6 linked regions of the Homo sapiens genome follow. The protein of the gene in region 6 interacts with the protein of the main gene of each other region in a pairwise test. Each region holds a gene or a part of one and is shown on either strand. Other genes may lie near its edges. The genes, in order: CAGE1, CCDC180, GOLGA6L1, GAS7, ARHGEF37 and MECOM.

Region 1 (3,500 bases), on a different chromosome or scaffold from region 6:
TAAATACCTGAAATTGTATATTTTTATGTTAAAGATAGTACGTAGTAAATATTAAGCTCACCTTAATAGCATGATCTTGAAATGCTTTTTCCTTAGCAATTAACTCTCTAAAGGTTGTGATTCTATCTTTATGTTTCAGTAGCTAAGAAAAGGAAAACATTCTGTATTTTAGAGAGAAAATACAACTACGCTCTAATATTTATAATAAAATAATCAAACCGGGCCGGGCGTAGTGGCTCATGCCTATAATCCCAGCACTTTGGGATGCTGAGGCGGGTGGATCACCTCAGGTCAGGAGTTCAAGACCAGCCTGATTAATATGGTGAAACCCTGTCTCTCCTAAAAATACCAAAATTATCCGGGCATGGTGGCTGGCACCTGTAATCCCAGCCACTCAGGAGACTCAGGCAGGAGAATTGCTTGAACCTGGGAGGCGGAGGTTGCAGTGAGCCGAGATGGCGCCATTGCACTCCAGCCTGGGCGACAGAGCAAGACTCTGTCTCAAAAAAAAAAAAAAAAAAATCAAACCATGCAGTCTAACAGTCTTCAAAAAACATACAAAAAATATGTTTTTATAGCTCTTGTGAGGAAAAGAATTCACACAGCAGGTCCAAGACTGCTAGGCTTAGAGAGGCCTGCTGGCAAGGCTGCCCCATGACTGGCATTTGGAAAGTTGGACTGCAGAAAGTTTTCCACCATTCTCTGATGTAAATGGCTTATGGTGCTCAACCTACTTGCCCAAAGCATGGGCATCTACTTTCCTTCCAGGGGTCTGGAATTTTGGTACGCACTAGGCAGAGGGTGCTTATGTGAACAGCTCCTGATAAAAACCTGGGGCACTGGGTCTCTAAGAAGCCTCGCTGGTAGATGACACTTCCACACCTGTGGTTGCAACTCATTGCTGGGGGAACGAAATGCATCCTGTGTGACTCCATGAGGACTCTTGGAAGCCTGAGTTTTGCTTTCTCTAGACGATGCCCCTGTGCCTTTCCCTCGGCTGATTTTGCATTGTATCCTTTGCTGTGGTAAGTCATAGCTGTGAGGACGACTCACAGTCCTTCAGCTAATCATCAAACCTGGGGGTGGTCTCGGGGTCTCCAAGGAGTTATCCTAACATAACGATTGTTATTACAGTCAGGCTATTAAAATTTTTCCTTAAAGAAAAAAATTAGCCAAATCTGGGCGTAATTTATAATCATTTCTTATTTATTCCTTCAGTATAATAATAATCTTAATATCCAATATTCAAACTGATTAGTGAAGTGTGGTGTGCAAAATATTTTTTATTCTTTATTGCAAACATTTTCCAATATTTAAAATAGAAAAAACTTTAATGAACACCACGTAACTATCATTCAGCTTCAATAATTAACAGCTAATGGTCAATGTCATTATATCCTCAATCACTGCCCTCTTCCCTCCATCCCCCTTCACTGAATCAAACTGCAGACATCATATCACCTGTCAATACTTCAGTAATTACACAGAAAAAATTAACCAAAAGAACATAAATATCTGAAAGAAATATTTGGGGGATTTTTTTTTTTTTTTTGCTTTTTGTTGTTATTGTTTGTTTGTTTTGAGACAGTGTTTTGAGACTTGCCTCACCACAGCTTCGACCTTTCTGGGCTCAGGTGATCCTCGCACCTCAGCCTCCGGAATAGCTAGGACACAGGTGTGTGCCACCACGCCTGGCTAATTTTTGTATTTTTTGTAGAGACGGAGTTTCCCCATGTTTCCCAGGCTGGTCTCAAACTCCTGGGCTCAGGCCATCCGCCTCCCTCAGCCTCCCAAAATGCTGGGATTACAGGCATGAGCAACTGTGCCCAGCCTGAAATTGTATTTTTGTAACAACCTCAGTTGGGCTTATTTTTGAAAGCTGTTTAGAGGAGTAGAGGCCAGCCGTTTCTCTGCATGACTGTGCTCATACTTTGGTCCTGTCCTCTACAGGCTGGCTAGGAGGCAGAGAGATTCTTCAGGATACCCGCAACACGTCAGTTCAGATAAGTGTTACAGAATGAATTTGTTATGATCCAAGATTCCAGGTTTGAATACGTTTTGATTCCTTTAGCCAGATAAAATTTTCATGTCTGCATTCCTCTCAGATTCAAAATGGTACAATTTGACATCCTGTTATCACCTTCCTTATTTAATTCTCTTCATTTTATCCTTCAATCTGTATACTACCACACCTAGAAAAGAGTACTTGAGGCCGGGTGCAGTGGCTCACGCCCGTAATCCCAACACTTTAGGAGGCCAAGGCAGGTGGATCACCTGAGGTCAGGAGTTCAATGGCTGCATTTCATTAAATTCGGCCTGGTCAACATGGTGAAGCCCCGTCTCTACTAAAAATACAAAAAATTAGCTGGACGTGGCAGCACACGCCTGTAATCCCAGCTACTTGGGAGGCTGAGGCAGAAGAATCACTTGAACCTGGGAGGCGGAGGCTGCAGTGAGCCAAGATCATGCCACTGCACTCCAGCCTGAGCAACAGAGCAAGACTCTGTCTCAAAAAAAAAAAAAAAAAAAAAATTAAAGAAAAGAGTAACTAAAGACAATCCAAGAACCTCTGCCCTCACCCTTCAGCCACCTGAGAAATAAAATTATTTTCAATGTTTCTGTTATTCCAAAGGATGAAGTTTGAAATCACTATAGGAAAGTCAAAATAAACAACCCTTCAGGAATCAGTAGTGCCGTGCAAAAATGAAAAAATTTATCATACTAAATTTTTTGTAGGTGAATGAGATTTTCCCATACAGACAAACAATAAAACAAGTCAAATGTTGAACATTTTATCTCTTTAGTGAGGGGCACAGTAAAACTAATCTGGTCCCCCAAAATAATTTTTAAAATGATTCCAACTTTAAGAGTTACTTCTTCACTACCTTTTAACTATTTTTTCACTAAAAATAATAAAATTTTTAGAAGAAGAATAAATATAATACCTCTTTATCTAAAGTTTTCTTTTTAAGATGGAGGCTCTTCAGTTTTTGCAGCATTATATCACTAACCTTCTCACTCTCTTTGAAATGTTCAGCATCAGAATTGATGATGTCCTAAGGGTAAGAGTTTCAGAAGCTAGATGAAAAAGTTTTTACTAAAGCTAAAATGAGGCCAAAACTATGCATATGAAACAAAAACAAATCTCCTTTCAATAAGTAAGCCAATCAAAAGAGGTAAAATCATATTGAACTCCATTCCTCAATTACTTATCAGAAGGCATCCAATAAAGGGTTAGTACAGAAAGATTTCATTTTTTTTATTTTAATTTTTTTTTTTTTTTTGAGATAGAGTTTTGCTCTTTCACCTAGGCTGGAGTGCAGTGGCGCGATCTCTGCTCACTGCAACCTCTCCCCCCAGGTTCAAGCTATTCTCCTGCCTCAGCCTCCCAAGTAGATGGGATTATAGGCACCCGCCACCATGCCCAGCTAATTTTTGTATTTTTAGTAGAGATGGGGTTTCACTATGTTGGCCAGGCTGGTCTCGAACTCCTGACCTCA
Region 2 (3,500 bases), on a different chromosome or scaffold from region 6:
CCCAAGAGTTGGGAAGTGTTTGCCTGAAGGATGTCCACTTGTTCAGGCCCAGTGTCCACAGGGTTATGAGTGATAATAAAGAGTGGAAATTATACAGATAATTGGATGAATGTTTTCCAGCTGTATGGAGCTCAGAGAATGGTCATGAAGCAAGGTTCATGAATAAAATATGAAACTGCATATACTCTATGGATCTAAAAGAGCCTGGGAGAAAATATACCAAAATATTTGCTGTGCTTCTCACTGTGGGGAGAGATTAGTGGTGATTTTTAATTTATTCTTTATACCTTTATCTATTTCTAACTTTAAAAAGAGCAGAGAGAAACAGCAGCATTTTTAAGTAATGGCAAAAAGTGAGGGAGAATGCCGCCCCTACCCTTTGCCAGCCCCCCTGGTGGGCTGGAGAAGGAGCTGTGTGGGCGGCACTGACCTGAAACTCTGCAGCAGGGCCTCCTTCTTGAGAGCCTTCCAGGTGTCCACCAAGCCTTGCCAGCGGTGGCGGCTGTCCAGCTCCTGCTGCAGGGTGGACTCCATCAGGTTGACAAACAGCTGGGCGAGAGCCTTCCGGTTGCCCAGCAGGGCATAGTTCATGACCTGTGGTCACAGATGGGCAGGGCTCTAGACAGGGCAGGGTCTCTCTCGGGTCAGGGCAAGGCTCAGTTAGAGAGGAGCAGTGGGAGGCTGGAGAGGGGAGGTGCAGGGTGAGGGCCAAGTGGGGTGGTTGCAGGGCCTGAAGGGGACTGAGGGGTCAGTGGGCACTCGATGAAGCTTCCTGGCACTGAGTAGCCATGGACAAGGGTCTTCCTTGAAGGCTTAACCACAGACCCTGACTGCATGAGCTTCAGCTCAGCTCCAAGGTCACTTCAGATGGTTTGTTAAAGAAGGTGAAAGGAGGCAGGCACTCAGTGAGCTCTAAGTGTTTACTCTTTTTTATAAATTTCTTCCAAAAGCAGAGTGCTCGTGCCATCAGGGACGAGCCACATATGGTTGTTAGGAGAACCGAGACCCAATGGCAAAATGAGGCCAGAGCTAGAACATTCTTCAGCAGTCCTCCCATGGCTTCTCACCTGGGCACCCCTGGCATGGGCGTGGGATGATCCTCCATTGCATGGCACTGTTTTGCCCTTTAGCATACTTGCCCCTGCTTAGATGAGAGTAACTTCCCCCATCCTCCCTGGCCCCAAATGCCTCCACACATTTCCCAAAGCCCTCCAGGGAGGTGGCAGTATGCTGGGGCAGTGGGTGAGAACCCTGCCAAGCTCAGAGACTAGAAATTCCAGTAATGCTTTTCAGTGGAGCCTGAGGCTTGATTTAGCTGTACTTCCTAGCTGGGTGGCACTGGCAAGTATTTCCTCAACCTACAGATCCACAGCCGTAAGATGGGGTTCATGCTATTTATAGCATAGGGATTTTGTGAAAATAAATGAGAAAAATGCAGGTAGAACAAGTAGCAAATGCAAGTTGTAATAATGAGTAGAAGCACAAGGAAGGGAAGCAGTGAAACACATCCGGGACACTGAAATCCTTGACTCTTCTATTGGATAAAATGTGCACAACTTAGGAGCCCTCGCTGATCTCAGAAGACAGCTACCACAGCTGGACCCTCTTTTATTATCCTCCCAACAAGTCCTGACAGGTATTACAGGCAGTCCCCGACTTACGATGGCTTGACATGATTTTTCAACTTTATGATGGGTTTATGAAGGTGTTAAATGCATTTTTGACTTTCTACATTTTCTACTTATGATGAGTATACTGGGATGTGACCCTATCGTAAGTGGAGGAACATCTATATTATCTTCATTTAACGACGCAGCAAGCTCCAGGCTCAGGGGCTGAGTCATTTCAGAAGCTTCCACATCTGGGCAGTGGAAAAGGCCTGTGCTCACTCCTTGCCTGTGCTTTATCTGGGTCGCCATGGAGCTGACATGGGCTGGACCCATCTGTGATTCAGAACACTGTCCTCTTTTCAGCCTACTGTGCTGCCAGGAGGCCCCTTTTCCAGCAAGCTCAGCTCACTGCACAAGACCAGGAAACCCACAGTGTGCCTTTGGGCAGCCAAAAGAGGAGTCCTCTCTAGCAGCAGAGGAGTTAGACTTTGCTCTGACCTTGGAGACATCATGAACAACCTTGAATTTTGTGTTTTCCACCCCAAGGAAAGCAGCTGTGGGGAGGGGTGCTAGGGGCATGGACAGGGGAAAGCAGTGGGGACAGAGCCAAGAGGCAGGCTCAGCAATGGGCACAGACCACTGGTAGGAAGAGAGGCAAGAAGAGGCAGAAAAGCCAGACATAGCAGGCAGAGCAGATCACTCATGAAGGTGGAAACCACCCTGAGACCACCGTAGCCCCCCGATGACTCCATAGTGTAGCGCCTATTGCATTGCACACAGTTGCTGAGACATGACCTAGTAGGTGCTCATTAACATCATCAGCGCTCCAGACGATAGCCCTATATTAGGTGTGCCTGGTTCAAGATGTCAGGGAAATATGAAATGTACTTTAGAAAGATCTCTATTGAAAAGAGAGATAGCAAGGACTACAATAGCAAGGACTCTGCTTCTCTACCTCAGAGGCCCACCTGAGCCCCTTAGAAACGTTATAGATGAGAAGCCCACCATTCCTGAGACACCAGACACCAGGCTCGGGGTGCCCTGGGTTCCTGGTCCTGCCCCTTCTCCCATGGGCTGATCCCTGCACAGGAAAACCACTCACCATGGCTTCTTCATTTATCAGCCTGTACACTTCGGGCCGCATGAGGTAGGAAGTTTTCTCTATGACTTCTGCATATTTCTTCAACACGCTTTTTAGCTAGAAATGACAAGGCACCATACTTAGTGGCTCACTTCCTGGAGAACTAAAAGGAAACAGAAGGATGCCTAATAAACCCGGCAAGTGACAGTCACCACACAGCCCACCTGCAGCCGACTTACTTTATCGGTTCGGGAGAACTCCAGCGAGTGCAGGGCCTCATCCAGCTCCTTAATCTCCTGCTTCCGGAGCAGTAACCGCCCGGCCACCTTATCCCACAGCTCCAGCAGGGCCTACGCAGAGAAGTTTGGGTCAGGCTAGGAGCCGGTGGGAGGCAGGGAAGAAGCAGGACCTGGGTGGGGCAGGCCCAGCCACGAAGGGACCCCTACTTGGATGGTGTAGTCCTCAAGGTTGGTGTCATTTTCCACCTTTAGGAAGAGACGGTTCATTTCTTCATCAGACTCAGTCAGCTTCTTCAAAAAAAGTCCCCCTGTGTCCACGATGAGAGGTTCCATTTCCTGCAACAGGCCAGGGGTATGATGGCCAAGGCATCAGCACCCCTGGGAAGGAGGGAGCCTTCCCTGTCATGGGGGAAGTGCCAGGCATGGTTCTATCTCAAAAATGATGATCATTGCCTAGACCTAACGAGTTGAGGCTCACTACTCAGCTCACAACCACGCCACACGCTCTGCGCTGAGCCCTCCTTCTTGGCTCATTTGATCCTCATCACAGTCTTTGAATTGGCTGCTGAC
Region 3 (3,500 bases), on a different chromosome or scaffold from region 6:
GAAGATACGGGAGCTGGAAGAGAAGATGCACGAGCAGGAGAAGATACGGGAGCAGGAAGAGAAGAGGCAGGAGGAGGAGAAGATACGCGAGCAGGAGAAGAGGCAGGAGCAGGAGGCGAAGATGTGGAGGCAGGAGGAGAAGATACGGGAGCAGGAAGAGAAGATACGGGAGCAGGAGAAAAAGATGTGGAGGCAGGAGGAGAAGATTCACGAGCAGGAGAAGATACGGGAGGAGGAGAAGAGGCAGGAGCAGGAGGAGATGTGGAGGCAGGAGGAGAAGATAAGGGAGCAGGAGGAGATATGGAGGCAAAAGGAGAAGATGCACGAGCAGGAGAAGATACGGAAGCAGGAGGAGAAGGTGTGGAGGCAGGAGGAGAAGATGCACGACCAGGAGGAGAAGATACGGGAGCAGGAGGAGAAGATGTGGAGGCAGGAGGAGAAGATAAGGGAGCAGGAGGAGAAGATACGGGAGCAGGAGGAGAAGATACGAGAGCAGGAGGAGATGATGCAGGAACAGGAAGAGAAGATGGGGGAGCAGGAAGAGAAGATGCAAGAACAGGAGAAGATGCGGAGGCAGGAGGAGAAGATAAGGGAGCAGGAGGAGAAGATACGGGAGCAGAAGGAGAAGATACGAGAGCAGGAGGAGAAGATATGGGAGCAGGAGGAGAAGATACGAGAGCAGGAGGAGATGATGCAGGAACAGGAAGAGAAGATGTGGGAGCAGGAGGAGAAGATGTGTGAGCAGGAAGAGAAGATGCAAGAACAGGAGGAGAAGATGCGGAGGCAGGAGGAGAAGATGTGGGAGCAGGAAGTGAGGCTGCGGCAGCAGGAGGAGAAGATGCAGGAACACCAGGTGAGGCTGCAGGAGCTGGAGGAGAGGCTGGGGAAGCTGGGGCAGAAGGCCGAGCTCTTGGGGGGAGCAGGCGGAGGTGTGTGCAAACCCTGGAGATCATACAGAACGACCTCACCACAACTTAGCAGATGGTGGTTGGCTCCCTCTGCTTTTCCACCAGTCTGTGGCCTACAGTTTAAATGGTGGGAAGAAGGGTGTGAGATTTGAGGCTGGGGAGGGAGGCATGGGCCTCTAGGCAAGGGAGGCAGTCATTTAGGCCTGGAGGAAGGGGCCAGGGCCAGGGGCCTGGGTAGGCGACAGAGCCCCGCAGTGCCCTCACTACCCTGTTTATGGGCCCAGAATCTGGAAGCCAGCCACTACCTACCCTGACGCCTATCCTGCAGGTGGAGCTGAAGAGCCAAGAGGCTGAGTCTGCAGCAGCAGCGAGACCATTACCTGGGTCACCTGCAGCAGTACGTGGCCGCCTATCAGCAGCTGGCCTCTGAGAAGGAGGCACTGCCCAGCTGCAGCAGCAGGAAGCTCAGGGCGAAGCGGTGGCCGAGATGGCCCACCAATAGTTGCAGGAGACCCGGTTGAGGGAGTTGATGAGGGCGGGGCCCCAAGGGGGATGATCTGGCAACCTCCGTGCCTTCTCACTCTCTTTCCTGGCCCCTTAGGAGCACCTGGAAGCTGCCATCTAATGAGCACATGACAAGAAGGCAAAGACAATAAACATGTAAAAGCCGGCAGCAAGGCCTGGAGAAGAGTAAGCCGCCATGTGACTGTTTAGAATATAGTCTGAGCACAAACCTGAAAAAAAAATTTTATTTATTTTAAATTGTGGCAAAATACTGGCCAGGCATGGTAGCTCACGCCTGTAATCCTAGCAATTTGGGAGGCCGAGGTAAATGGATGACCTGAGGTCAAGAGTTCAAGACCAGCCTGGCCAATACAAAAATTAGCCGGGCATGGTGGCGCATGCCTGTAATCCCAGCTACTTGGGAGGCTGAGGCAGGAGAATCGCTTGAACCTGGGAGGCAGAGGTTGCAGTGAGCTGAGATCGTGCCACTGCACTCAAGCCTGGGTGACAGAGCGAAACTCCGTCTCAAAAAAAAAAGTTTCTTCCTTACATGTATGTTTCTATTAGTTTTCTTCTTGGTCTTTCTCATTTAGTCTTGTGTTGTCTTTTGACATTCATAGTAAACTTTTATCTGCCTCCAGAGAGTATTGACTTTGAGTTTATGGCACACAATTGGAGTAAGGGCAGATCGCCTTCATCTACTTTGGGACTAAGCTGGTTCAAAGCAGGTTTTAGGTTTTCTGATGGCTGGTCTATGTTTTATTCATTTGGACTCCCAGGGGTGGCCCTTCCAGGGTCCCCACCAAGGTCCCATCTCCTTCCTGGGACCCAAATTCTCATTAGGTCATTTCAGCCCTGTGAGAGTGCCAAACATTCAGCTAGGCTCTCCAGCCTCTTAACTACCACTTCATACTCAGTTTCTTAGCCTCTTAGCCCTCTACTGTTGACCAATCACCAAATGTGGGAAAGCACTACAGACTGTCAGGATCACCTCCTAGGCCTGGTCACTCAAGTCCTGACTGAGGTCTCCAATTACCTTCCAACAATTGTTTTTGATTGGGGGCGGGGCACATTTTTATCCAGTTTTTCTAACTGCTCTTGTGGGGAGGCGAATCTGTAACAAGCTCCTCTGCCTTTACTGAAAGTTGAAAACCTTCATCTGTCCTTTTTTTGTTGTTGTTGAGATGGAGTCTTGCGCTGTTGCCCAGGCTCTAGTGCAATGGCACGATCTCTGCTCACTGTAACCTCTGCCTCCTGGGTTCAAGCAATTCTCCTGCCTCAGCTTCCCGCGTAGCGTGTGCCACCATGCCTGGCTAATTTTTTTTTATACCTTTAATAGAGGCAGGATGTCACCATGTTTTCCAGGCTGGTCTCGAGCTCCTGACTCAGGTGATCTACCTGCCTCAGCCTCCCAAAGTGCTGGGATTACAAGTATGAGCCACTGCATCCGGCCCATCTGTCTTTTAAAACATGTTTTTAATTGGAGGTATAATTTCTATTAGTGAAATGCACAGGTCTGGTTTACATTTTGATGAGTTTTAACTCATTTAACATTACTATGGAACCCACCTCCTTTGAAGATACAGAGTATTTCTATCATCCAGAAAGTTCTCCTGTGCTTTCATGCTGTCCCGCACTCCCCCAGCAGCTGATGAACATGCTGAGGACATTGGTACTGGATTCTGGCCGCCCCAAAAGAGCCGCTTTGACCAGGCTTACCCAGCACTAAATCCCTGCCTGCTCTCTCAAAATTTCCATCTTTAAACTGGTTGTACCTATAACCCTCCCTCATCAAGTCAATAGATAAACAAACCCTGAAAAATAAACAACTCTTCCTGGCCCAGCAGCCCACAGCCTAATATTTACTGTATTCCCAGGCTTTCAGAAATGTAACTCGCCTGCCGGTTCACCCTCACTAGGGCGGCAGCTGCACGGGAGCAGCTGGGCTCACCCATTAAGCAAGAAGCCAATAGCTGGACAGTGACACTCAGACCCCAGCCTGGGCGAGCCTGGCTGAAAGCCCCCTTCTTTCCATCCGACTGTGGAGAAAGGGGGCGGAGCACACACAACTCTACTGCCCTCCACATC
Region 4 (3,500 bases), on a different chromosome or scaffold from region 6:
TTCAATGAAAGAGGCGCCAAAAAATTAGAGATTAATAAGTCATCGGTTTCTAGCACGTTGACTGAAAGACCAGTGAGTTGTGCTTGTTGAATTCTGCCCTCACTGCAGATGTGCAGGTCAAACCCAAAGTGGTCAATGGGAAAGATGAAGAAAGATGGATTTCCAGGGCATGGGCTCCCGACTAGAATCTGCCCCTCGCTCATGCTTCTCCCGGCCCCTTTAGACTCTTTAGACTGACATGGTGGAGAATGTGTTTGCTGTGGTAGAGAAAGGGAGAAAGTAATGAGCTGGGCCAAACAGCAGCACTGAAAGCTTCCCAAGTCACACTCAGACCAGACTTTTCCAGGGATTGGAAGATGGAGAGAGGGAAAGGAGGTGCAGACACCAAGTAAGGGTTTGGTGCAGGGCTCTGGAATGTCCAGAAGGAGCGGGAAGCAAAGGTGGCGGGACACTGCCTGAAAGGCGACAACCTAGTGTGGCCACAAGAGAGTCTGCTATGCCTGTCCAGTGCCCACCAGTGACAGAAAACTGTACAAGGGACAGCAGTCCCAGCCCTGCCATACACAAGAAGACAGAGCCATCTGGGGGATGGCAAAGACTTGCCCTAACCCATCTCACATGTAGGACTGACCCGGCCCCATTAAGAGCCTGTGGTGGGCGGCCCGGGAGAGTGGGGGCCAGGGCAGCCCAAAGGTGCACAGGGCACCGTGGCGGACAGGCCCCAGCTTGCTGGCCTCTGAGACGAGCTGGTTTGTTTCCATCCCTGAAGCCTTTGGACGAGCTGGATGAGGTCTTGATAACTGAGAACTTTGGAAAGCTTCCTCTAATGAGACTGGGAAGGGCTGGCAGGGTGGGGGCAGGGGCCTCCCCGAGGAAGCAGCTGGGGGAAGGATGGATTGGCATTTCCAGAGGAGACTTTACAGATGGCGCCTGATCTCATGGGACACGATTCAGCGCTCAATTTGGGGCTAATTTGCCGAATGAGGTAGTTCCATCCTGACCTCTCCAGGCATGGTGGGTCTGGGAAGACAGGAGCCAAGCCTTCCTCCTAAAACCCCTGGTGATGAACAGTGGCTGAGAAAGCCAGATGTGGACTCCCAGAATGCAATGGGAAAAAAATAAAGAAGGAGGGCTGCAAAGGATTCTGGGTGCGGCTGTGAGCTGAATGGCACCTTCTACCCATGATTCTGATCCTGACACCTGGCTTAGAGACAGAGCCCTCCCTACCCTGATCCTCCAAAGCCCTGGAGACAAGGGAGCCAGCTGGAGGAAGAGCCTTGGGGCTTCCAGGGCACAAGCATGTGACAGTGACCCCTACAAAACTCGGCAAGGACCACAAAGTTCCAGCCTCTGTTTGTTTCAGAGCGGCAAGCACAGCATGGGAGTCAGGGGGTCTTCAGCCTCAGAGACAAGGGCAGGGCTGTGGGTCTGTCTTCTGGGCCTGGGAATATGGGGGAGCCCCCAGCTAGGCTGTCCGGGTCACCCTTCTGGAATCACCAGCTCTCTCCCCTCTCCTCAGTGGCCCAGGAGAGAGGGTGGGGGGCATCCACTCGGCATGGGCCCCATGGTGGGAGCCCAGCCCCCCTCCCCAGCAGGACCCCCCGAAGCTGCACAGGCCCATCTAGATCTCCATGTCCACAGGGCGGATGTTGCCCGTCTTGTGCTCTCTGACCCACAGCTCCCTGTCTTTGGCCGGGTCCACTTTTCGAAGCAGCTGATCCACGGGCTCGACTGTCTGCAAGAGACAGAGAAAATGCGACACTGTTAGAGACGGCGGCCAAGCCAGGGAGGTCTCCTCTGAGACATGCTGTCCTCACCTTAGTGTCTCTGAGAGCAGCCTCTCTAGAGGGCTCCGGGGCCCCAGGGGGAGGCCCATCTGAGGGACAGCACATGAAGAGGGCTGTGAACGGGGAACCCAGTATGCATCCCGACCCTGCTTCTCACCCTGCAGACCCCAGGCCTGGATGAGAGGCCAGGAGGGCCTTAAAACCTGTCTCTATCCCTTCCACCCCACATTTACCACCAGTGAACAGGACAAATAAAACTTGAGCTTTAGGTATTGTGAATATTTCTAGAAGTTGTTTTTTTTGGTTTTGTTTTTTAAGAAATTTAATAATGTCTTCAGCTACTGTAACTGTTACGAGCTTCTTTCTCCTCAGGGTAACAGCTCACGTGTGTGTCCACTTCATGTGCCAGGGTCGGAATCACACAGACGTCCAGGACAATCCTGAGAGGCCCAGTCCACGAGGCCACCCCCAGGCCAGAGCACCTGCCCACTGCCCGCCTTTAGGGCAGATTCACTTGCAGCAGCCACTTAACCTGCCACGGCCTAGCGCCAGGCGGCTCTCCCCAGGCCCCGTGTCGCCCGGGAGCCCCGCTGGGCTGGAAACTCACGCTTTGGTTGAACATGTCTGTTTCATGCCGCAGCTGCGTGTACTGGCACAGGTGCTGCCGGATCATCTCTACCCTCTCCACCTCCAGCCGCTCTAGCTCCTGCCGAGAAAGCAAAGGCCAGAGAACTCTGAGCACGTCCCCTCCACTTGGGGGTCCCCCCACCAAGACCACAAAACGCAAGTCACTGGCTGTGGACATTCTGTCCCATCTGACTCTCTGGGGTCTGATGAAGAGCGTGCCCCATATCTAAGGTGAAGGTGAAGCTGATGACAGCAGCAGCGGCTGTTTTACTTCCTGAAATCCTGCTCCGCCACGCACAGTGCTGAGGGCTTTACGTGCGTTCCTTAACTGTCCTCGTTACAATTTTAAGAGATCGTTTCTGTTATTATCCCCATTCTCCAAGCAAGGGAACTGGGGAACTAACACCTAGAGAGGCAACAACACAGCTCACCCAAAGCGACACGGAATTATGGGAGGAACAGGATTTAAACCAGAGTCCATCAGGCTGTTACTCATGGCAATGCACCCATGCAGCCCTGGCCCTGGTGCCCTGATGGGGTATAACAAGGGGGCACATGTGGGAGCTCCATGCCACACATTCCTGGGACCTTGTCCCTGGGCCTCTGCTGAGCAGCCTCCCTTCCTCTGCCTATGCCTAGTGCTGTGGCCGCAATAGAGACCGGGCCAGGGAGGCAGACTGGGCTGCACGTGGCACAGCTTTTGTCAAAGGGGAGCGTGGAAAGGGTTTGTCCTCTGGTTTCTAGATGGTTTTGTGTCTTTGGAATCTAGGGGATCCGGCTGTTACTCTGCATACAACTAGGTCACTGCCCAGGTGATTAATCAGAAAGGGGGGTAAAGCAGGGGGCTTAATTAGGAGATTAACCAGGAGGAAAACTAGGTCACTGTCCCTGGTGGAGGCCTCTAATCTGCTCTGGTGGGCTGACACCTGGGGAAGGCAGCTGGTTAGTCCTGTGCTGGATGGACAGGGGTGGCTTTAGGCAGTGGGCTGATCCGATGAGCACCTGGCATGATGCCTCCTGTCCCATCTGGCCCAAGTACCAGCCACACTTCACTGTCCACTCAGGCAGGTGCTGACTGATAAGGAG
Region 5 (3,500 bases), on a different chromosome or scaffold from region 6:
GAGGGAGGATCACTTGAGTCCAGGAGTTCAAGGCTGCAGTGAGCTATGAGGGCACTACTGCACTCCAGCCTGGGCAATAGAGAGAGACCTCATCTCTTAAAAAAAGACAAAGGCTGGCCGAGCACGGTGGCTCACGCCTGTAATCCTCAAACTTTGGGAGGCCGAGGTGGGTGGATTGACTGAGCTCAGGAGTCTGACACCAGCCTGGGCAGAAGCAATAGCTTGCTGCAGAAGTATTAACTCTGGAACATTCAACTTTTTTTTTTTTTTTGAGATGGAACACAAAAGTCCTAGCTCCTCAGGAGGCTGAGGCAGGAGGACTGTTTTGAGCCCAGGAGGTTGAGACCACAGAGAGCCATGCAAGGCATGGCCATGATTGTGCCACTGCAGCCTGGGCATCAGAGAGAGACTCTGTCTCAAAAAAGAAAAAAAGACCTAAAAGAGGTCCTCTGTACTATTCACTCATGTTTCCCCAGTGGTTACATCTTATTTAAATATAGCACAACATCAAAACCAGGAAATGGGCATTGGTATAATACATGTTTGTGTTTGATTGTTCTATTGTATTTTATTAAGTGTAGATTGGTGTAGCCACCACCTCAATTAAATTACAGAACACACCTATAATCCCAGAACTTTGGGAGGACGAGGCGGGAGGATCACTTTAGCTCAGGAGTTTGAGACCACAGTGGGCAACGTGGTGAAACCCCATCTCTATAAAAAATACAAAAAAATTAGCCGGGTGTGGTGGTGCACATCTGGAGTCCCAGCTACTCTGGAGTCTGAGGTGGCAGCCATTCTCTGCCTGGGAGGCAGAGGTTGCAGTAAGCCAAGAGCCAAGATCACACCACTGCACTCCAGCCTGGGCAAGAAGAGTGAAATTCTGCCTCAAAAAAAAAAAAAAGAATAAAATAGCCAGGCCAGACGCGGTGGCTCACACCTGTAATCCCAACACTTTGGGAGGCCAAGGTGGGCCAATCACGAGGTCAGGAGTTCGAGACCAGCCTGACCAACATGGTGAACCCTCGTCTCTACTAAAAATACAAAAATTAGCCAGGCATGTTGGTGTGCACCTGTAATCCCAGCTACTCAGGAGGCTGAGGTAGGTGAATTACTTGAACCCGGGAGGCAGAGGTTGCTGTGAGCCAAGATTGTGCCACTGCACTCCAGCCTGGGCAACAGAGTGAGACTCCATCTCAAAAAAAAAAAAAAAAAGTTGAATGATCTGCAGTTAATACTTCTGCAGCAAGCTACTGCTTCTGATTCTAGAACAGAATAAAACTGAGTTAATTCTTTTCTCTCTCTTCTCTTCTGTTCACACTGGCACAGAGGGATTTGGGCATTCCCACATTCATTCAACAAGTATTTGGAGCAACTACTACATGCCAAGCATTTTGCAGGATTCCAGAAATACAAAGATCAGGAAAAAGTGGGTCTACAATTAGGATAAGGTATTTAAAATATCTGGTTATTTGTTCCAGGTTTCACTCCACTAAAAGCAGAGGAACTATTTAAATTAAAACATGATGTAGGTTGGGCACAGTGGATCATGCCTGTAATCCCAACACTTTGTGATGCTAAGGTGGGAGGATTGCTTGAGCTCAGGAGGTGGAGACCAGCCTGGGAAACACAGTGAGACCCCATCTCTATTAAAAAAAAAAAATTTAAATTAGCCAGGCGGCCGGGCATGGTGGCTCACACCTGTAATCCCAGCACTTTGGGAGGCCAAGACGGGAGGATCACCTTAGGTCGGGAGGATCACCTGAGGTCAGGAGTTCAAGACCAGCCTGGCAAACATGGTGAAACCCTGTCTCTACTAAAAATACAAAAATTAGTCAGGCGTGATGGCGGGTACCTGTAATCCCAGCTACTCGGGGGGCTGAAGCAGGAGAATCACTTGAACCTGGGAGGCAGAGGTTGCAGCGAGCTGAGATCTCGCCACTGCATTCCAGCTTGGGCAACAAGAGGGAAACTGTGTTTCAAAAACAAAACAAAACAAAAAATTAGCCAGGCATGGTGGTGCATGCCTGTAGTCCCAGCTACTTGGAATGCTGAGGTGGGAAGATCGCTTGAACTCTGGAAGTTGAGGCTACAGTGAACAGTGATCATGCCACTGCACTCCAGCCTGGACAACAGAGTGAGATCCTGTCTTATAAATTAATTAATTAATTAATAAAACATTATGTGTCAATTAAAAACATAATAAAACTTTTAAAAAATGATATGGGCATCCTGATTATTTAATCCCTTTCAAGAGAGAAAAGTAACAAGAGGAAACAATATTCAAAACTTTTTTTTTTTTTAAGAGACAGGATCTCACTCTGTCACCCAGGGCTGGAGCACAGTGATGCAATCCTGGGCTCAAGCAATCCTCCCACATAGCTGGGACTACAGACATGTGCCACCATACCCAGCTAATTTTCTAACTTTTTGTAGAGACAGGGTCTCACTTGTTTCCGAGGCTGGTCTCTAACTCCTGGCCTCAAGTGATCCTCTCATCTTGGCCTCCTAGTGCACTGGGATAACAGGCATGAGCCACTGAGCCTGGCCTAGTTTTGACCAATTGGAGGAACTGAATGGAAAAATGGAACTAAGCTGATCCCTGGGGAAAGTGAAATTATCATTTGAAAGTTCTTTCAGAAGATAAAATGTCTGGGCAGGGAAAGTTGAGGATCCATCAGCTAGCTGCCCAAGGCTTTAAAGGGGAGCCATTTTATTTATTTATTTTTAATTTTTTTTCTTTCCCTTTCTTACTCCCAGGAGGAGCCCATTTAAACATTTAAGGAAGGGGGGAAAAAGGAAAACAATCTGGTCTCAGACTCCAGGAATGGTTCATAGAAAGCTGTCAAAGGTGAAGCTCAGACATCATGAGAGCAAAGGACCCTGTTGAAGAATAAAGGGGCCGGGCATGGTGGCTCATGCCCATAATCCCAGCACTTTGGAAGGTCAGGCGGGCAGATCACATGAGGCCAGGAGTTCGAGACCAGCCTGGCCAACATGGCAAAACCCCATCTCTGCTAAAAAATATGAAAACTTAGCCAGGCGTGGTAGCACACGCCTGTAATCTCAGCTACTTGGGTGGCTGAGACACAAAAATTGCTTGAACCTTGGAGGCAGAGGTTGCTGTGAGCTGAGATCATGCCACTGCACTCCAGCCTGGCATGGAGTGCAGGCACTCTATTAAATATTTTACTTGGATTATCTTAAGAAATCTTATAACAACCCTGTAAGAAAGAAAATCTGACAGAGCAAGATTCTGTCTCAAAGCAAACAAACAAACAAACAAACAAACAAACAAAAAGGCCGGGCACCGTGGCTCACGCCTGTAATCCCAGCACTTTGGGAGGCCAAGGCGGGCAGATCACGGGGTCAGGAGTTCAGGACCAGCCTGACCAACATGGTGAAACCCTGTCTCTACTAACAATACAAAAAAATTAACCAGGAGTGGTGGCACACGCCTGTAATCCCAGCTACTCAGGAGGCTGAGGCAGGAGAATCGC
Region 6 (3,706 bases):
CAAGCAAAGAAAGAAAAAATAAATCTTGTTTACACGCAGTTATAACAATGAAAAAAGGATATTTTGCATGTGGACAAAAAATTAAAAGGAGCATAGAAAAGTCAAAGGTTTCCCCCCTTTGTGAATCAGTTAACACTACTCGTATAATGAAAAACAAAAATAAGAAACTGAGTTCCTTTTGGCATACAATCCGTAGAAAACCTGTAAGTCGCTCTTTGTCCTAATTTAAGTGGATGCTGTGAACGTGAAGTGATACCAGGACTGGGTTGTGGTGCACTTGAGCCCTGACTGCACCACATGGGGAAAGTACAGAACAATAAGCGAGACTCATTGTTGCCCAAGAACTATCATTTATGCTATCTCAAAACAAAACAAACATACTCTACATTCCACATATCTGTAGGGCATCAAGATCTCAGCATCATATCTTTAAATCATTGGATCCCAAAGGGAAAGTAAAATTGCATGAAGGAAAAATACCACACAGTGGGGAAAAATACTCCTTTTTGTAAGTCTTTATTTTTTAGTTGCTCCTCCCATAGTAATGCACTGAAAGGCATAACAGTTTATATTGTACAAAGCATTTGAAGAAAGTACCTCAACTTGCTGATTATTTCAAAATGAGATTACAAACAAAAAGAAAACAAATCTGGTTCCTCAATAAAGGGCAAAATAACTGAATACAGTCTGTTATTTACTTCTCTCTTTTAACATAAGGTTGGGAACACTTCATTTTACAAATAGGATTAACATGAACATAACATCGCACAAGCTTGCAGACAACCAGCATAAAATATGGAGTACAGTTTTTAATCAGAAGAATCATGCTTCCATGAAAGAAATTATAATCGTTTATACAATTGAATCGATTTCAGTATTACAAAAACTAAGTTGCATCTATTCGTATTTAGTTCATTAAGAAGGAAAACAAAACAAACAAACAAAAAGGAATGTTAAGAAAAGCCAAACACCATTTGGCACTCTCATACACAGGTCGGGTCACCTTGGTCCTTGAAATTCGGAAAGGGGTGTGCCTCAGACGTCATAAAGTAGTGGCTGACTGGAACAGTGCTATTTTAATCAACAAACAATAGTTTGCCAACAAATAAATACATGATACACGCAACACACACAAAAAAATAAACATTAAAAACAGTGACATGATTGTCTAAAATTAAGATGTTATTACAAGGATTTGGCAAACAATTTATTAGTGGTACAGCGGTACTGGTGATGAATAGGTTACTTCACTGACTTAACCTCTTTGAGTGTTAACATCCATAGTTTACAATATACACATACCCTTTTTCCCTAGTTTTAAACAATGTACTTAAGAAGGCAAAAGGGGGAACAAGTACTCCCTGTTATCAGTTTCTATAATAATTGACTGTGCATTTCATCCAACTACTTCTGTCTTCAAAGGGTTAAATTACATAAAACTTTAACGAAGAAAAAAATTAAATCTGTAATTAAAAGCAACTGTTCCCAATCATGTCAGGTGATCTTGTACAAAAGAGAATTCAGTTTCTATGGAGTGTTCATTCATATCAATGCTGCCATCTCAACTGCCCTTCTCACCCACCCATACCCTAAGGTGGGGTAAACTGGAAGATGCCTTCAGCCCACCAAGTTTTTTGTTTTCACTGAATCACTTTAAGTCGCATTGATTGATCTTCCAGAAGTCAGCAGCTGCCTTTGCTGTGCAAAACAAAATATCGAGAATAAATAGTTTCTTTTTTCTTTCTTTTCTTTTTTAAATCATTCAGTTTAAGGTCACTAGACTTTAGATGAGTGACCCTGCAGGTTTATAAGGCATTCTGCTCAGCAGTCTTGTAAATAGTCCTATATGAAAGAGCCATGCTACTGTTGGACTTGGTCCCACTCTGGTCAACCTTGATAACGTCATACGTGGCTTATGGACTGGATAGCACTGGATTCCGCCGCAGCCCTGGCCATACTGTGCCACACGTTGGAAGAACTGTGGGATGTAGAATGGAGGGACTCCTTGTCAGACAGTGACAGCATCATAGCATATGCCTGGGGTAAAAAGGAGAGAGACTCAGTAAATGGCATTTGAAAAACATCACTTTTAGTTCAAAGAATATTGTTGGTAAATGGAAAGGGATGGGACCCTGAGTAGGGGCATCCTTCATGGGTGTGTTTGGCAAAGAAGGCATATTTTTTGTAGAAACCACATGGGATTACTGCTGGCCTTTAGTGCCTAGGGGCCCCAAAAGTGACACACGCTACAGAACCAAAAAGAACTATCCTACCTAAAATGCAAATAGTGCTTCCATTGAGAAAAATGAGTCAGTCTCCTGTTCAACTATAAATACAGTCATCCATCCACTACATATGTTCAATTCACCAAAAATATTATTGTGTGCTTATGACTGAAACCTCAAATATTAATAAGATATAGACCTACCTTGACAGAGCTGTGGCCTAGTAGAGGATACAGCCTGACTCCTACACTTTATAACCGAAAGCACTGAAGGTGCTTGAGTGACTTGCCCAAAGTCACTCAATTAGATAGATAGTGGGAGAAGCATAACTAAAATGTATTTCTGCCCAACTTTTAATCCATTGTCTTTTCTCCAATTTCCCTCCATGCTTGACATACTCAGTCCTGGCACCCATAAGTTGAGGTGGATCAAATCAGCTCTACCAAAAAAATAAAACCAAACACAAGACCCAACAGTGTTCTAATCAACTTGTTTTCCAGTGTCTGCTGAGCAGAAGGTGCATGGAGGTGCTCTGTGAGGAAGTACTCTTTCTTCCCTATTATCATGTCAAATTTTAAATAACTGTTCAGAGAGTCCCCTATTTACTGCCAAGCAAAATATTCAAATGAAATGTTTGGTCTTGACTTGTAAGTGAACTTTTCACTGTTGATTTGCTATTGTTGGTCTCATCCATTGCTAAACTTGCTTGTCAAAATGCTGCTGAAGTGGAATCATTAAAGTCCTGCCAAAGACATTCCACTGTCTGTAAACAAAGACAAAATGCCTCTGTTGTTAGGCAGAATTTCATCTCTGGGAGTCATGCTGAGACATGTGGCCAGTCTGTGGTTTCTTCCGTAATCATTGCATTTAGTTAGAAAATTTACCCTTGTAGGCTGATTTTTGATTTGCTGGGTCATCGCTCTAAATGTACACATTTGACTTTTATGTATGCAATTTGCCTTTTGGACTTCTACAATATCTCATGATCCATTTAACAAATATTTCTTAAGCATCTACTCTATGCCAGGCTCTGTGATAGATCCTAAGAAATTAAGAATAAATAATATAGAGTACTTATCTTTGGCAGAGTTTAAAGTATGGGTTAAGTGAGCATTCAACCTAAATTATCTATTCTGATTATGTACCTACTTTTAGAGAACAAGATAAAGAGTACTCTGAAAGAGTTAAAACAAATTCTGATATTTGGGAAGATAAAAAGGAGTACAAAGAAAATTTTGGAATTTAAATTTTAATCCTGCCTTTAAACCTGCCTCTACTCACCTAGCTGTGTGATCTTGAGCAAGTTGCTTAACCTTTTAAGCTTTACTTTCCTCCTATAAAACAGATGATAGTAATAACAGTATTGGCCTCCAAGAGTTGTGGAGGAATCACATGCACTAACTTACATAAAGTGTTTAGCTCAGTGTGCCTGACTGAGGTAATACATAAATAGTACCTATTACCATGAAATTAATTTTTAC

The links.
Region 1: the proteins of MECOM (region 6) and CAGE1 interact in a two-hybrid assay, tested with the Homo sapiens proteins (one study listed by BioGRID).
Region 2: the proteins of MECOM (region 6) and CCDC180 interact in a two-hybrid assay, tested with the Homo sapiens proteins (one study listed by BioGRID).
Region 3: the proteins of MECOM (region 6) and GOLGA6L1 interact in a two-hybrid assay, tested with the Homo sapiens proteins (one study listed by BioGRID).
Region 4: the proteins of MECOM (region 6) and GAS7 interact in a two-hybrid assay, tested with the Homo sapiens proteins (one study listed by BioGRID).
Region 5: the proteins of MECOM (region 6) and ARHGEF37 interact in a two-hybrid assay, tested with the Homo sapiens proteins (one study listed by BioGRID).

The regions. Positions count from the first base shown.
Region 1 is NC_000006.12:7,365,743-7,369,242, forward strand, and holds part of CAGE1 (cancer-associated gene 1 protein), read right to left. Parts: intron 3,057-3,500; coding exon 2,946-3,056; intron 143-2,945; coding exon 62-142; intron 1-61.
Region 2 is NC_000009.12:97,314,159-97,317,658, reverse strand, and holds part of CCDC180 (coiled-coil domain-containing protein 180), read right to left. Parts: intron 3,267-3,500; coding exon 3,138-3,266; intron 3,042-3,137; coding exon 2,931-3,041; intron 2,809-2,930; coding exon 2,713-2,808; intron 595-2,712; coding exon 431-594; intron 1-430.
Region 3 is NC_000015.10:23,126,823-23,130,322, reverse strand, and holds the end of GOLGA6L1 (golgin subfamily A member 6-like protein 1), read left to right. Parts: coding exon 1-853; intron 854-1,509; coding exon 1,510-1,533; 3' UTR 1,534-3,257; downstream 3,258-3,500.
Region 4 is NC_000017.11:9,915,607-9,919,106, forward strand, and holds part of GAS7 (growth arrest-specific protein 7), read right to left. Parts: intron 2,494-3,500; coding exon 2,395-2,493; intron 1,736-2,394; coding exon 1,622-1,735; 3' UTR 1-1,621. UniProt on the Homo sapiens protein: May play a role in promoting maturation and morphological differentiation of cerebellar neurons.
Region 5 is NC_000005.10:149,587,998-149,591,497, reverse strand, and holds part of ARHGEF37 (rho guanine nucleotide exchange factor 37), read right to left. Parts: intron 1,973-3,500; exon of another isoform or gene 1,856-1,972; intron 1-1,855. UniProt on the Homo sapiens protein: May act as a guanine nucleotide exchange factor (GEF).
Region 6 is NC_000003.12:169,083,007-169,086,712, forward strand, and holds the end of MECOM (histone-lysine N-methyltransferase MECOM), read right to left. Parts: intron 2,038-3,706; coding exon 1,903-2,037; 3' UTR 501-1,902; downstream 1-500.